Linked DNA regions of Homo sapiens: region 1 is linked to region 2. The links come from fine-mapping of genetic effects on gene expression. A gene starts in region 2. The other region holds a variant in brackets. All regions are shown on one strand. Distances are between the middles of the regions. Region 1 overlaps WDR33 (WD repeat domain 33). Region 2 holds the start of WDR33 (WD repeat domain 33).

Region 1 (8,344 bases), 47 kb after region 2:
TGTTGACTTTAAGTACTAACTGGGTTAGTACTTGTACTAACTTGTACTGGGTTAGTACTGGTACTTGATTTTCTTGTTTGTTTAGTAATAATGGGTATTTAACTTTCCTGTATCTCACTTTTCTTCACTTAATTAATAGACTAATTGTAATACTTTATAATAGTTTTTATGGGAAAGTTCTATATGGTCCCAAATTTGTCTTTAAATGTTGAAATAATTACCTTGCCGTGTTTCTGGTTTCTGCCTTGTATGTAATCAGGAGCTCTAAGAACCCAATTTTCCTTTTTTGTAGCTGGTCCCACCTATAGGAATGTTGAATAATCCTATGAATGCAGTAACAACAAAATTTGTTCGGACATCAACAAATAAAGTAAAGTGTCCTGTATTTGTTGTTAGGGTAAGTAATCTGTTGGATATTTTGGGGGAAAATTAATCCTGCGTTATATAGCAAATGTATTTGACAGGGCAAAGAAAATTAAACATTATTTTAAAAGTATATCTGGGCTTATAATTGGTTTATTGCTAGTAATTTTATTTTGGAATATCCAGTTGTTTATCTACTTTATCACCATTGAGTGAGATACCACTTTTGGATTGTTTTTCTTCATGTGGCAATTTCTGTAGAATTCTCTCTGAATAGATGGATACATGTTGTAGCAGGTCTCAGAGTTGCGTTTGAGTAGGAATGCTTTTATTAACTATTTAGAAAGCAGCATCCCAAGGTAAATGAAAAATACTTAGGAGTTAACAGACAGGAAAACATCTGAGAGCTGAAGAACTGTGGTGTACCGTAATTTTTAGCTCTATGAAGGTACCTAGTAGGCACTTAATACATTTAAACTGAAATTTTATTTTATTTTTTTATTTTTTTTAGACAGAGTCTCACTCGGTCACCCAGGCTGGAGTGCAGTGGCGTGATCTCGGCTCACTGCAAGCTCCGCCCCCCGGGTTCACGCCATTCTCCTGCCTCAGCCTCCCTAGTAGCTGGGACTACAGGCGCCTGCCACCATGCCCGGCTACTTTTTTTTGTATTTTTAGTAGAGACGGGGTTTCACCGTGTTAGCCAGGATAGTCTCAATCTCTTGACCTCGTGATCTGCCCACCTCAGCCTCCCAAAGTGCTGGGATTACAGGCATGAGCCACCGTGCCCGGCCTTAAACTGAAACTAATTTTAAAACTGAAACTAAATTTAAAAAATATAATTTTTAGTTATAACCCCGATTTTCATAGATGATAATGTAATCATTTTCTTCTTTGTGTTTCGATTATTCCATTTCCTAGCTAATGCACTTGTTGGTTAACAGTCTTAAGTTGAGCAAATAACAGTTGAAAAAAAATGAGACCGAGAAAAGACGATTGTGTCAAACATTAGTGGCAGATGAGGAAAATAAGCAGATCTTCTGATATCAGAGGAGTATGATAGAGAGCAGGGAGAACCAAGAAGTCCTGGGAGAGAGATGTCAGTCTGAACTCCATAGAAATAGCTGCATTTAGTCTTAGGCCTCTTATTTGCCTGAGAGGCCTTAGGCAGTAGACACATCACTCACACCTGTAATCCCAGCACTTTGAGAGGCTGAAGTGGGTGGATCACCTGCGGTCGGGAGTTTGAGACCAGCCTGACCAATATGATGAAACCTCGTGTTTACTAAAAATACAAAAATTAGCCGGGTGTGGTGGCACGTGCCTGAGAGAGGAGGCTGAGACAGGGGAATCACTTGAACCTGGGAGGTGGAGGTTGCAGTGAGCCTAGATTGTGCCACTGCACTCTAGCCTGGGCGACAAGATCGAAACTCTGTTTCAAAAAAAAAAAAGAAACATTGTTATGTGAGTAGAAGCAACCAGTGTGTAGTCTAATTTTTTTTTTAATCAGGGAATTTGGTTAAAGGGGTATGATGTGCAGCTAATTTTAATATCCTCTTAGCATAGCATGGAAAACCTTTTTGAAAAGAATAAAATCCGAGCATCCATATCTTATAAGGTGGGTAAATGTTCTCATTTGGGGATTACGCTATAAGGTTTGAGGAAGAATTTGCACATAGTAGAGGCACAGTCAAAATCAAAAGGTATTAAGGTATAAAGACTGTGGGCTCTGTGTCTACAGTTTGGTTGTCTGTAGTATTGACCGGGTTAGGATCCATACCAGATAACAGAAACTAGAAAGAGGGGAGGCTTTTAATCTGATAATCAAAACTGTGACTTACAGGTAAGCAATGAAAAGCCAAATTGTCATATATATTTGTGTAATTTAAGAAATAACCTTCATTTTATATATCCTTACTGTTTCTATAAGCACATATGTATTTGTATTTTTCAACTTTGTCGGAGTTTTTGGAAAATAGGATTGTTGTATTGCCATTTTGTATATTTACATCTTTTAAGGAAAATGAGTGTGTGATCCATCATAGAAACTTGAAAATAAAAAGTAAAAACAAAAAATTTGAATGTTTCAAATTAACCAGCACATATGCCACAGATTTCCTTTAGTATGCAAATTGTGACATCAAAATACTGATGTAAAAATATTTAAAGGGCCTTAAGTGCAAAAAGTAATAAAGGACTTTAGGTTTAATTTAAAAAGAGAAAAGGTGCACTTAAAAGTGCAAAAAAAGTTATTGGCATAGTCATTCCCTGAAAATATATACATCTATGTGTATCCATTAGAATTAAAACTTTTGGTGTAGTGTTAATTAGTCATGGCACTATTATGGTTTTTTTTGAGAGTAGATCAGCGTAAGAGTTATCACTGCTTGGTACTTTGAATGGAGGAGAGCTTACTTTTTTTTTTTTTTTTAAATATGTTTAGCTGCAGGAAGAGTTTGAAAGCCTCAGTGTCCTTAAATCGGTACTTATTATTATCTTGTTTTTTTAATTAAACACTGGTAACTTTTCTTTCTGAATTTGTCCTCTCTTACTTGTAAGCACCATATCCTTTATTCAGTCTTTGAGTTGTTCTGGTGACTGATCACCTTATTTATGTTAGTCTATCGTATAGCCTAGGGAAATGAGGTCTTTGCATATTCTGTTTTGAAATGGTCTTTAGCATGCATACGTGTGTGTAATTTAGTGAGTAGGTGCGTATACTCATAATGTACTTACTGTCTTTAATTTAGCTAATAAACCAAAGGACTAGAGCTTTCCTTGCACAGTGTTAAGTTGTTTTCTGACAAAGTACTTCTGATAAAGCTGAGCTACATTTAAGTGAAAGTCAGTATCATTATTTAATGTCAGTTATTGCATGTTTTACAAATACCTTTAATATGTTTTTCAAAATTAGTGAAGTTGGAGGATGTATAACCTGTCTTTTTTTCTCCCTTAGTGGACTCCAGAAGGAAGACGCTTGGTCACTGGAGCTTCTAGTGGGGAGTTTACCCTGTGGAATGGACTCACTTTCAATTTTGAAACAATATTACAGGTAATGATAATCACCAGATGGTATCATCATCCTGTGGTACTGTAAAGAACTTGAGATATAGTCATTTCATTGGCATTGTTAAACTTAGAATTGGGACGAATTATTACCTCGAGTCAGTTATATGCTCTTGTAAGCCTTTAGTCATATATTCTTTGAAGCAGCACCTTACTAATTAATGTTTTCTGCTTTCACAGGCTCACGACAGCCCAGTGAGGGCCATGACGTGGTCACATAATGACATGTGGATGTTGACAGCAGACCACGGAGGATATGTGAAATATTGGCAGTCGAACATGAACAACGTCAAGATGTTCCAGGCACATAAGGAGGCGATTAGAGAGGCCAGGTTTATACACAATATACCATTTTCTGTAGTCCCTATTGTCATGGTTAAATTATTCTCTAAGTGTATTCTGGGTGCAGAGATGCATGGGCTCTGTCAGTTTCTGGGAAACTTTCTGCACCCTATAAACACAATATTTTTCTTTGTTTTCACACATTCACCATTTTGCTGGCACCTTTCTGAAGTAGTGTTGTCCCGGTA[T/A]CAGCCTTTGCAATATGTTAGAGATGTACTGTCTGCCGCATTTTGCACTGGTTTTCTCTTTTCATTTATGATTAATAATGTGTATACGTTATTCCTTTTTATTATCTACTGTGTAAGACAAGAATATTTCATTCCAAATAAAGAATTCAGTCTTTAATTATGCAACTGAATAAAATCTAAAGCCTACAGAAAACAACTTCAGAATTCACACAAAGTGGAAAAAGGCTTAAGTGAAGACCTGGTTGGCTTGGTTATGCCACGACTTCCAAAGGAAAGTATAGGACTAAAACCCTCACAGATAACTGGATGTGGCAAACATTAACGGAGTAATGAATGGGTTCTTCAAGCTTTGCAGCTGTAAGCAGATCATTGTCAAGAAGACTCTAGGACTTTTCTTCTGATTCACTGTTGATAACATCACTTATGCAAATGTATACAATAAGTGGAGTTTAAAATATTTTCAGTGAGTTGTATATTTTTACACATCAGTGAGGTATGTATAGTAAAACTGGGGGAAAAAGTTCCAAATACAAGCCTGAAGAATTGCTGCAGCCTCAGAATAAAGCTAAGCAGCATTCTTTAAGGTTGTGCCACCCATGTGTGGGAGGAGGTTGACATCTTTATGGAAACATCATCCACTGTAGTCATTTGTTCATACTTTCAGAATCTTAACAGAAATTGTTGGATGAACATGCTTCTGCTTTGTAGATTTTGCCTTAGTGTCATGCCCATACATTGAGTTTACACAGCTGGTCCTTCATAGGATTCCAAAGTTCAAGGGAGTTTTTAGAGTTAGTTGAGAAACTTGATGATCTTTCACTGCTGGGAAAAACTGACTCCTTCTTGCAGCAGATTCTTTGGCTTTACACACAAGTCTGAATGTCCTTATTTTAAAGTTTTCCTCAAAGGTGCAACATTCATGGAATAGCTTGCCAGGAAGATGTGAAACTTTTCTACAGACCTTTGAAATGGATGAGAAACATTGTATGTAGGGATGTTTAGCAATCAGTCTTTTAATAGACAGCCCACATTGTTTCAGCTTATTTCATGAAGTGTCTGAGGCAGAAGCTGATGATAATTTTGGGAGCAGTATTCGTGTGTGATTTAAAAGACTGCAGGAATACTGCAAAAATAGAATCCATTTATTTTCACCACTTAAGGCAGCTTCATGTGATTTCCTCGTATCATAGAAAATAGAGAAGGAACATGGATAGCATTAGCACTAATAATACACACTTGAAGTTCTCAGAATACTGATGATTGAAAACTCAAACAACTGCTCTGTTGAAGTCTTCTTTTGATGAGATGCCTATGTTAGCTGACGACATTCACTTTAAGGGCTTCTTCACTGGATTCTTCCCTCTCCTGTTTATAATGCAGCACAGTGTTTTTATTTTTCCCTGTCTGAGAAGCACAGATTATCTGTTAAATGCTGACTTCTTTCCCCTGCTGTGTGTCTTCATGTAACAGTTTCTCACCCACGGATAATAAATTTGCTACATGCTCTGATGACGGCACTGTTAGAATCTGGGACTTTCTTCGTTGCCATGAGGAAAGAATTCTCCGAGGTACGTGTACTAACAGTACTGATTGGAATATTTAAATAGGGAAGACATTTGTGGTTAAATCATCACAAAACCACAATACTGGCTTACACCTCCATTCAATTTTTTTTACATATACACACCGTCTCAGGCTCTTCAAAAAAACCCAGCACTTTCTCTGACTCACAGTCATTTTGTAGGTTTTTACTACCAGTGTTATCTTTGAATTTTTCAGCTGTAAATTAAATACAAGAGTGCCTCCCCCTTACTTGCTTATCTGTATGCATCTTTTAGGGCTGTATTCCTTTTCCTTCCTTGTAGCCAGGGTACTTGTTCCCAACATATTGACACTGTGGTTTGATTTAGATAGCCGTCATTCTCCTGGCAGTCCTTTTACAATATGAATTAACCGACAAGATAGAGGTATCAAAGCTACACTTCTTAGTGTTACTATTTTTGAAAGCAGTTGGTTTTTCAGTACACCACATTTGTACTACATGGCCGGCTTGTTACTAAGTTCGGGTGGCATTGCTGCTTGTTTACTTTTGTTGATTTTATAATTAATAAACCTCTATGAAATTACTTCATTCCGTAACTGAAGTCCATATTCTCACTTCGATTATTTTAGATTATGCATTAGAATATTGGACTTTATAAAGTGGGACTGTTGAAATATTAACAGTACATCAATGTGAGTTACGTGAATTCAGTGGTGGTAGAGTTAAGGAATTTGTTGTATATATGCAATACAAACATCACAACAAAGACACTTCTAACTGGATCCTGTTAGTTTATTAAGTAGGAAGGTAGTTTTCTCCAGTGCTTAATTTGAACCTTTTGAATGTACTGTTTAACAAACAGTACCTTCTACTCCGTACCCTTGATTCCAGGATGCCACAAAAGTACCATCTTTCTCTGACACATAAATACAGGGTGGGAGGATGGGTGCTACGGGTGTTGGGTGTCAAATTATTATTCAGAGCTTTTCCCTTATGTTCAAGAGTCAGCAGAGATCGTTGTCTTGGTTGAATCGTTAAGTTTCTCACAGTTTTTCAGAGCTTTAGCTGTAGCATATAATGTTGATGTTTTGTAGACAGGAAAGACTCTTGAGATACTTTAATGTGTATTTCAGCCCATATTTCAAGCCAGTATCTTCCATCACATTTGCTTCAACACTCCTGACTTGGCACATTTTGTTTGGGTTTATCCACAGTACTGTATGACTGTAGCTTTTGTAAGAATAGGGAACCTGTCACATTGAGGGAGTTTACTCACTATAAAGGTCATAATATTGTATAACTTCAGAACGAGACAGAGACTTTGAGATGATCATGTCTGAGTTATTTTATGGATGAGCTCCATGATGCCAAGGGTGGAAGTGACATGTTCAAAGCAAAATAGGTTCAGAGCCAGGACTAGAATCTTATCATTTGACTCCCAGCCTAATGCCACACTTATGTTGAATCTTTCCTCACTATTAGTCTTGGCTGTTAAACAGAAATAAGTGAAACATTTTCTAAGTTTTTAAAATCCTGGAAACTTAGAGAAAATGAAATAATTTTATTTATTAAAAGTAATTCTAGAGTAGCTGGGCGCGGTGGCTCACGCCTGTAATCCCAGCACTTTGGGAGGCCGAGGTGGGCGGATCACGAGGTCAGGAGATCAAGACCATCCTGGCTAACACCATGAAACTCTGTCTCTACTGAAAATACAAAAAATTAGCTGGGTGTCGTGGTGGGCGCCTGTAGTCCCAGCTACTCGGGAGGCTGAGGCAGGAGACTGGTGTGAATCCAGGTGGCGGAGCTTGCAGTGAGCGGAGTTTGCACCACTGCACTTCAGCCTGGGCAACAGAGTGAGACTCTGTCTCAAAAAAAAAAGTAATTCTAGAGTATTAAAACAACTAATTTTACAGTGGACTGTATTAACTGAAGTCTGATCTAAAACCACTTTGCTGCTTGGATTTTAAAAAGAAGGAAATCTATGTGATAACGTTTTTGAGTCCCATGATCCAGTGAAGCATTATTCAATTTTGGTAATGAATGTGTTTCATTAAGAACTTTCCTTTGAAATTTAGAGTGTGCAGGGGATATTAACTAGCAGTTAAGTATTTTCAGATAAGTCCAGGTAAATTTAGATGAAGTTAAGTAGATGCTGAATCATAAATGAGAGTTGAGATTTTTGTATGAGGTCTCTTTATTTTAGGTTTTTACTATGGAAATTTCAAACATGTACAAAGGTATAATGAGCCTTCAGGTACTTTTAGGGTTTACATTCTAGCTTTTTAATATCTTTTGATTCTTTTTAAAAAAATTCTACTTACTTTACAGTAACAATATTTTTAGTACCCCAAGACACTTCAGTATATGAGACATGAATATATTGAATTAAGTTGATTATACCACCCAAGCAGTAATTCTGATAGCAGGTCTGCTGTAGGAGAAGAGTTATTAGATTCCAGTTGTCTGTTTTCTGTCATTTCTCACTTTTCCAAATTTTATGCATCTAAGAGCTTCCCATCCTCCCCTTAGTGAGTTGTGGGGTCAGAGGGTTGGTGGATTGGTAGTGGTTTCAAGGGATGATGAGAGTTCTTTAAATAAAATGTGAAGTGAACTTACTTAGCTCTACTCAGAGAAAACTGGATCACAAAGTCAAACAAATAGGGACAGGATAGTCTAACCTCTAAAATATCAGTTGCCCTTTATTAAGGATGATGTTCATGTAACACGCATAGACTCTATGGCATCAGGTAGATAAGCATACTCCTTTGCATTGTTAGTGTTGTGTATCAAGTCATTACTTTTGGAGTTAAGTATTCAGAAAATCCAAAATAATTCTATTTAAGGG
Region 2 (8,344 bases):
CCTCCTTTTATTTTTTTTTTAGGGACAGAGTTTTGCTGTGTGGCTCAGGCTGGAGTGCAGTGGTACGATCTCGGCTCACTGCAACCTCTGCCTCCCGGGTTCAAGTGATTCTTCTGCCTCAGCTTCCCAAGTAACTGGGACTACAGGCATGCACCACCATGCCCAGCTAATTTTTGTATTTTTTAGTAGAGATGGGGTTTCACCATATGCTGGCCAGGCTGGTCTCGAACTCCTGATCTTAGTTGATCCGCCCGCTTCGGCCTCCCAAAGTGCTAGGATTACAGGCATGAGCCACCACACCTGGCGTAGTTTGTTTCTGATTTTTTTTGTTAGCAGGCTTGCTTTCTCTGCCTCTAGAAAGGGGGGAGAAAGCTGTATTATGCAGAGATGATGAGAACAGGATGCGTAGAAATAGTCTATGCTAATCCAGTGGGAGGTGGCATACTCAGCTGTATTTACATATAAAGAATGCACAGGGATGGTGATTGCAGCATTATTTGTATTAGCTGGTTTTGATTTCCTGAGCTCAAGTGATCCTCCCACCTAGGCCTCCCAAAGTTCTGGGATTACAGGCATGAGCCACCGCTTCAGGCCTGAGAAGCTGTTACAAAGAACGAAGATATGTCTACACGTGAACTGAGAAGGAAAGGTGCCAAGATATATTGCCAAAAGAGTACAATTTGGATAGTATCCTATCTGTGTAGGAAAAATGTACTTGTATACAATATTTTCATGTATGTGTAAAGACAATAGTGGCTGGGTGCTATGGCTAATGCCAGTAATACTAGTGTTTTGAGAGGCTGAAGTGGGAGGATCAGTTAAGGATAGGAGTTCAAGATCAGCATAGGCAACATAGTGAGATCTCATCTCTATAAAAAATTGAGAAAATTAACCAGGTGTGGTGGTGCACCCCTATAGTCCCAGCTATTTGGAAGGCTCAAATGGGAGGATCACTTGAGGCCAGGAGTTCAAGGCCAGCCTGGGCAACATAGGGAGACGCTATGTCCCTAAAAAAAGAAGTAAATAAATAAATCAGGATAGTGAACTGTCATTTACCTATCACCTAGCCAATCTTGTGTCTATGTCCCTCTCTCCTCCCTTGTAACTTAGTGGAGATTTAGCCATTTTTTTTCTTGAATAAACAATCCTTATCTTGTTGAAAGACCTTGGTTAATTTCCAGCACTCTGAACACTGAAAAAATTGATTTTGACAAAATTTTGCCAGTGTTTTGTGGCTTTTATGAAGGAGAAGATTTTCAGATGTTCTTACTCAACCATTTCTGCTGATGTGCTTGGCTGGAATCACTTAAAGCCAATTCCAGACATCATATCATTTAACTCATACATACTTCAGGACACAACAGGTAAAGATTTTACTTATTTATTTTTGAGATGGAGTCTTGCTTTGTTGCCCAGGCTGGAATGAAGTGACACAATCTTGGCTCACTGCAACTTCCGCCTCCGGGGTTCAAGCGATTCTGCTGCCTCAGCCTCCTGAGTAGCTGGGATTACAGGTGCCCACCACCATGCCCAGCTATTTTTTTTTTTTTTTTTTGTATTTTTAGTAGAGATGGGATTTCACCACGTTGACCAGGTTGGTCTTGAAATCCTGACCTCATGTGATCCACCCACCTCAGCCTCCCAAAGTACTGGGATTACAGGTGTGAGCCACGGTGCCCAGCCAACAGGTAAAGATTTTAAAAAATTAATGAAAAGGCCGGGCGCAGTGGCTCACGCCTGTAATCCCAGCACTTTGGGAGGCCGAGGCAGGTGCATCACAAGGTAAGGAATTCAAGACCAGCCTGGCCAAGATAGTGAAACCCCGTCTCTACTAAAAATACAAAAATTAGCCGGGTATGATGGTGCAAGCCTGTAATTCCAACTACTCAGGAGGCTGAGGCAGAAGAATTACTTGAACCTGGGAGGCGGAGGTTGCAGTGAGCTGAGATCGCGCCACTGCACTCCAGCCTGGGCGACAGAGCAAGACTCCGTCTCAAAATAAATAAATAAATAATGAAAATATAGTTGTTACATATAACAAATTTAAAAACTCTTTAAAATGTCTTTTCCCCCCAGTTTGTTCAATTGGGACCCAAATAGGGAGTACACATTCCATTTGGTTGATATGCCTCTTAAGTCTCTAACCTGTAACAGATAATCTCTAACAGTTTCTTTCCTCAGTTTTTAAATTTTTATTGGAAGAAAATGTATCACATGTAAAATTTTATAAAATATAGAATATGGCTGACTGCATCCTTGCAGTATACTTAACAGATTCATTTGTCTCCTGGTCAATTTAAAAAACAATTTTCCAGGAAGGGGCCTGTGAGGTTACAGGTGTGAAGGATTTTTGCCCTTGATTAGACTGCTCCTCCAATTCAGTACATTTTAAAGATTTTCAGGGATCAGGACACTGCCTGAATGCCTCCTCTACCACTCCCAGTATAATTTCTAGGAACTGACCACTTGCTTGTCTTTTCTGCCTAACTTCTAAACCCAATTGATGAGCGGACTTCTTAGCGTTACCTTCCTGACCCCATTCCCTACCTTCAGCCCTTGAGAATCCTGCCTTCTATCCTGGCTTTCCTGCCTTGCACTCAGGGTGTCCATGGCTTCCTTCCATCCTAACCTAAGCTCATCACACAGAACTGGAATTGTCTGGCCTCCTTACATATTTCTAGACACATATCAAAATAAGATTATAGGGGCTGGGCGTGGTGGCGCATGGCCTGTAATCCCAGCACTTTGGGAGGCTGAGGCAGGAGGATTGCTTGAACCCAGGAGTTTGAGACCGCCCTGGGCAACATAATCAGATCTTGTCTCTGTCTCACGTGTCCGTGTGAAGAGACCACCAAACAGGCTTTGTGTGAGCAACAAGGCTGTTTATTTCACCTGGGTGCAGGTGGGCTGAGTCCGAAAAGAGAGTCAGCAAAGGGTGGTGGGATTATCATTAGTTCTTACAGGTTTTGGGATAGGCATTGGAGTTTGGAGCAATGTTTTGTGGGCAGGGGGTGGATCTCACAAAGTACATTCTCAAGGGTGGGAGAATTATAAAGAACCTTCTTAAGGGTCGGGGAAATTACAAAGTACATTGATCAGTTAGGGTGGGGCAGAAACAAATTACAATGGTGGAATGTCATCAGTTAAGGCTATTTTCACTTTTGTGGATCTTCAGTTGCTTCAGGCCATCTGGATGTATACGTGCAAGTCACTGGGGATATGATGGCTTAGCTTGGGCTCTGAGGCCTGACAGTCTCTACTAAAATTAGCTGGGTATGGGTGTCCTGGTACAGGTCATTAGTCTGAGCTACTAGGGAGGCTGAGGTGAGAGGATCACTTGAGCCCGGGAGGTTGAGGCTGCAGTGAGTTATGATCACCCTGGGTGAGAGACCTTGTCTCTAAAAAAAGAAAAAATATAGAAGTTTATAAACATTTCTGATGTTATCATAAAAACTTTAGATACTGTGTAATGTCTGCATGATAGTCTACGTATGGATGTGCCATTATTTAATCACTGTCTGCTACTGTTTCCTTTTTTTTTTGCTATCATTAATACCTCAAAGATTAGTACACAAATCTTACTCACATCTCTGAGGCTATCCTTAGAATAGATTTTTGGAAGGGGATTATGGAGTCAAAAGTAAGACTTCTTTGAGACAGGGTCTTACTCTGCTTCCAAGACTTAAGTGCACTGGCACGATCTTGGCTCACTGCGCCCTCCAACTCCTGGGCTCAAGTGATCCTCCCACCCCAGTCTCCCAAGTACCCATCACAGGAACGATCACAGGAAGGCGGTCACAGGAACGCACCCCGACGCGCAAAGATGGGATCTCGCCATGTTCCCCAGGCTGGTACGATTCCTGATTCATACTGGAGAACAACTTGCTGTGCAGTTATATTTTGAACCTCATCAAAATGGAATCATACAGCGTCCTCTTCTTTGTGCCTAAGTTAACAGTAGCTGCTATTCGTTCAGGCTGTTGCGTTTATCCGTAACTTCCTATTTCTCTGTAGAAATCCACTGTATGATACACCACAATTTAGCCACTCAACTGCTGATGGACATTTAGGTTACCAGTTTTTTACTACTACGAATAAACGTGCTATGGACATTCTTGCACATGCCTTTGGTGGACGTATGCACTCATTCCTCTTGAAGTGAAATTTCTGGGGTCACAAGGTAAGCGTACATTTAGCTTTGGCAGAAACTGCAGCGGTTTTCCAAAATGGTTGCATCGTGGGGCTGTTTTTCTATCTTGGTCGCTGGACTTTAAGCGAGGCGTAATCTAGAGGCACAACTGGCTCGGGTAAGGCGTGGAGCCTGACTGTGTGCCGGGATCTGCCAGGGCTGCCACCAGCTAGCTGCACGGGTGAACAGACTCAGCAAGGTGCCACAGTGGCTTCCCACAGATCCACTCTCGGTGGGCTCGGTCCAACGACCCGCTATGTCTGCCGTACTGGCCCCGTACAAATATACTCATTCACATACTGGAAAACGGGGTGTTTTTCAGAGCATACACGTTAGCTCACACTGTAAAAAAAAGTCAGCACTGCGAAACGCAGTCGCTTCTTTCCTCCAGGAGGTAGCGCGTCCTACTCGCTCCGGAACAAAGGAAGCGCTCTGCAGGGTCTCGCGGCTCGGCACCTCACCTAGGCACATGCGCAGATCGAACCTCACAGAGGCCCGCGGTCCAGGCGCGCGTGACGTAGCGCCGTCCCGCCAGTGCGTGATGACCCCAGAGCGTGCGTTCGGTGGCCCATAGGGGAAGATGGCGGCTGCTCCTTTGGAGGAGCGGGATTGAGAGGATCGGGGTGGGGAGACCAAACAAGAGAGACATTTCTGGCTCTGAAGGCGAACGCTTCGCTGGCCATTTAGGAGCTCTGCTCAAAGCCAGACGGTGAGTGCGGCGGCGACACGGGACTGCTCGCCTGCAGCAGGCAGCGGCACTCTCCGCCATTTTCGGGCTCGGCCGTTGCGTGCTTTGGGGGCCTGGACGGGCGCCTGGGCACAGGTTGGAGGAACTGGGAGAATCGACCTCGGGGCGGCTGTTCGAGGCAGGTTCGAGACTTATGGGAGGGGGCTGGAGGCTGGAGGCCAACCGGGAAAAGCGGCCATGGTTAGAACTAAGGCCCTGACTGGGAGCGGTGGCGACGAGAAGACGTAAGTCAGGCCACAGTTAAGACGTGAAGTTTGGAGGGAAATGCATTTTAACTGAGGTTTGGGGCGGGAGTGGAAAGAAGTGGGCCGAGTTGAAGTAGTTGGTTGAAAGGGTCAAGGGAAGTTAACGTGAAATCTGCAAAACAGCTGAAGACTTAGCCGTGATGTTATCGTGGCTTGAAATCGGTGCTTATTATAAGGATGAGGCTACAGCTTGACAGGCAAAGCCCTGCTTTTTTGGAATAGTTGTATTTCTATTTGGTTTGTGCTAGATCCCTGTTTCTGATTTTAAGTTGTCTTCTGGCAACTAAGTAGTGAGGATCTTAGCATGCCTTCTTAAAAGAAATGACAATGAATGTTTGTACTTGGTTGTAACCCTTGGGATTAGTGGCCCCTTCCGGAGTAAGGAGGAGGCGGCGGCGGCAGGTCGGTAGGGAATTCCGTAATTGGATCTATTTAAATCAAATCAGAAAAATACGGGCTACTTGTAGAAAGCCTGTCAAGAATGTTTTAAAGTAGTTTCTACACACATGATCTTAAGTTGACTGTTCAGGAACTTTGGAAGACATTAGAATATGAACAAAAAGCCTGCACTGAAAGGAACAACTCTGGGGAGCGTAGACTTTACTTTTTTAGTACACTCTGGAGAGCTAATGCATGCTATATATACATATATATGTGTATATATGTGTGTGTGTATGTATATATAGCCTGTGAATATGGTGCAGTGGTAAACCTACTTAATTCAAACCTTTTAGTGACAGTTATGCTAGTTGTACCTCTTGTGGCATTTTTCATTTCCTCGCCTTAATTGCATTTTACCCATTTTTTATTACTGTAAGATACTTTTGCTTTTTTTGTCTCCTTGACCGGGAGAAGATAAAATATTGTATAGATTTGAGTTTTTGCTGAGACTTGAAGTTCCATATTTAGACTATCTTCTTGAAACTTGGGGAGAAATTTTAACTTGTCTTTCCTGTACTCCTAGGAAGAATTTTGGTAGAAAGTTGGCTTATGGCCGGGCGCGGTGGCTCACGCCTGTAATCCCAGCACTTTGGGACGCCAGGGTGGGCGGATCACCTGAGGTCAGGAGTTCGAGACCAGCCTGACCAACATGGCGGAACCCCGTCTCTACTAAAAATACAAAAATTAGCTGGGTGTGGTGGTGGGCGCCTGTAATCCCAGCTACTCGGGAGGCTGAGGCAAGAGAATCACTTGAACCCCGGAGGCAGAGGTTGCAGTGAGCCAAGATCGCGCCATTGCACTCTAGCCTGGGCAACAGAGCGAGACTCCGTCTCAAAAAAAAAAAAAAAAAAAAAAAAAGGAATTTGGCTTACATATATTACAATGGTTTAGACAAAAATAAATGTTTATCTGTGAAGCTGATGGCTTAACTTGGATAATTTTCTTTGGTTGGTGAAAAATACTAAACAGATTTTGCCATCACGGTTTTATATTGACGTAAGGCTTTAATTATATTTTTACTAAGCACTTAAGGTATTTATTCAGAGCTCTCTTTGCTAAGTAATAAGTTCATATACTTTTCCCATTACTTTGCGGTGGAATATTATTTGATTATGGCTGAAGTTTGAACTGCTTCATATTTCAGAATAGGATAGTAAGGTTACAGAAAAGCTTTATGATTACGACAAAGATATTAGTGAAAAATTTTCACTTATAAATGTGTTTCTGGAATTCTTTTTTTTTTTTTTTTTTTTTTGAGACAAGAGTTTCGCTCTGTCGCCCAGGCTGGAGTGCAGTGGCGCGATCTTTGGCTCGCTGCAAGCTCCGCCTCCCGGGTTCACGCCATTCTCCTGCCTGAGCCTCCCGAGTAGCTGGGACTATAGGCGCCCGCCACCGCGTCCGGCTAATTTTTTGTATTTTTAGTAGAGACGGGATTTCACCGTGTTAGCTAGGATGGTCTCGATCTCCTGACCTCGTGATCCGCCCATCTCGGCCTCCCAAAGTGCTGGGATTACAGGCGTGAGCCACCGCACCTGGCCAATTTTTGTATTTTTTAGTAGAGGCGGGGTTTCACCATGTTGGCCAGGCTGGTCTCAAACTCCTGACCTCAAATGATCCACCTGTCTGGGCCTCCCAAAGTGCTGGGATTACAGGCATGAGCCACCGCGCTCTGCTGAAAATGATTTTTCTTTGGTAACATTTATCTCCCCATTTCAAACCATTTACATTAGTCCTAGAGACTGAAGCTCTTCAGTGTATTGGAAAATCTGAGCAGTGCTACTCTCATCTGTCTGGCCCTTAAACATTTTACTAATTTTCTGGTAGTGACTGACTTTCTAAAGTTGTATTGTATCTTGTACTCATGATTTGTGTGCTTATAAATTCCCAGAGCTAGGTAGTATTGGAAAGGGCATGTATGGGTTTCAGCAGCAAATGGACCTAGGTTTGAATGCCAGGCTCACCATTAACTACCTTTTTTATATTGGGTCAGTTAATTAAACTCTCTAAGCTTCAGTTTCTTTGTATATAAGAATGTTAACTATAAAACCTAAAGGTAAAAAGTGCCTCATATATAGTAGGCATTCTTTAAATGTTAACATTTTTTTTCTTTCTGTGATGAATTTAATTGGTGACATCATTTTCAGTTTTAAACATTAACTCAAATATCTTTGTTGAAATTTACTGACAATCTCATTCCTCTGATAAGTTAATCACTCCTTTCTCTGCTATTAAAGCATTTTGTATATATCTTTAATGTATTTTGACTATACCTTCTCCACTACTTGTGAATACTTTGGTTTTTAGTTTGTTTGTTTGTTTTCTGAGACAGGGTCTCACTTTGTCACCCAGGCTGGAATACAGTGGCATGATCATGGCTCACTGTAGCCTCTAATTCCTAGGCTCAAGCGATCCTCCCACTTCAGCCTTTCAAAGTCTTGGGAGTCATGAGTCCCTGCTGCCAGCTCTTTGTGAGCACGTTGAAGACGTGCTATAGTACCTTATATTTTTGTATTCCTAAAACCTAGGCATTATACAAATTGAAGAATGAATTTTCTACAAAAATTCCCCTCATGACTTGGTTTATTTCTGATCTTTGGCTGTTGCTTATTAACTCTTTGCCTAGATTGTATTCTCCTTCCTTTCACACTATTCCTATTCTGTTCAGTCCTTAAAATCCAGCTAAATCCAATTAATGAGGTCTTCAGTGACTCTCATTTATTC

What was found. PIP is the estimated chance that this variant, and not a neighbour inherited with it, causes the effect.
Region 1: its variant is fine-mapped to the expression of WDR33 in whole blood (TOPMed, PIP 0.95).

The regions. Positions count from the first base shown.
Region 1 is chr2:127,760,242-127,768,585 of GRCh38, reverse strand. WDR33 (WD repeat domain 33) reads left to right here. Exons shown (of 22, transcript NM_018383.5): 4 at 293-397; 5 at 3,317-3,412; 6 at 3,607-3,758; 7 at 5,427-5,524. Among named protein-coding and RNA genes, the nearest start is that of WDR33, 47 kb to the left of the region's middle. The variant T/A (reference allele first, on the strand shown) is at 3,957.
Region 2 is chr2:127,807,566-127,815,909 of GRCh38, reverse strand. It overlaps WDR33 (WD repeat domain 33), which reads left to right and starts at 4,739. Exons shown (of 22, transcript NM_018383.5): 1 at 4,739-4,898. It overlaps LOC124907885 (a long non-coding RNA gene), which reads right to left and starts at 4,659. Exons shown (of 2, transcript XR_007087230.1): 1 at 3,767-4,659; 2 at 2,178-3,398. RefSeq lists enhancers at 4,438-4,507, 4,778-5,067, 5,088-5,167, 5,248-5,327, 4,734-5,674 and 1 more.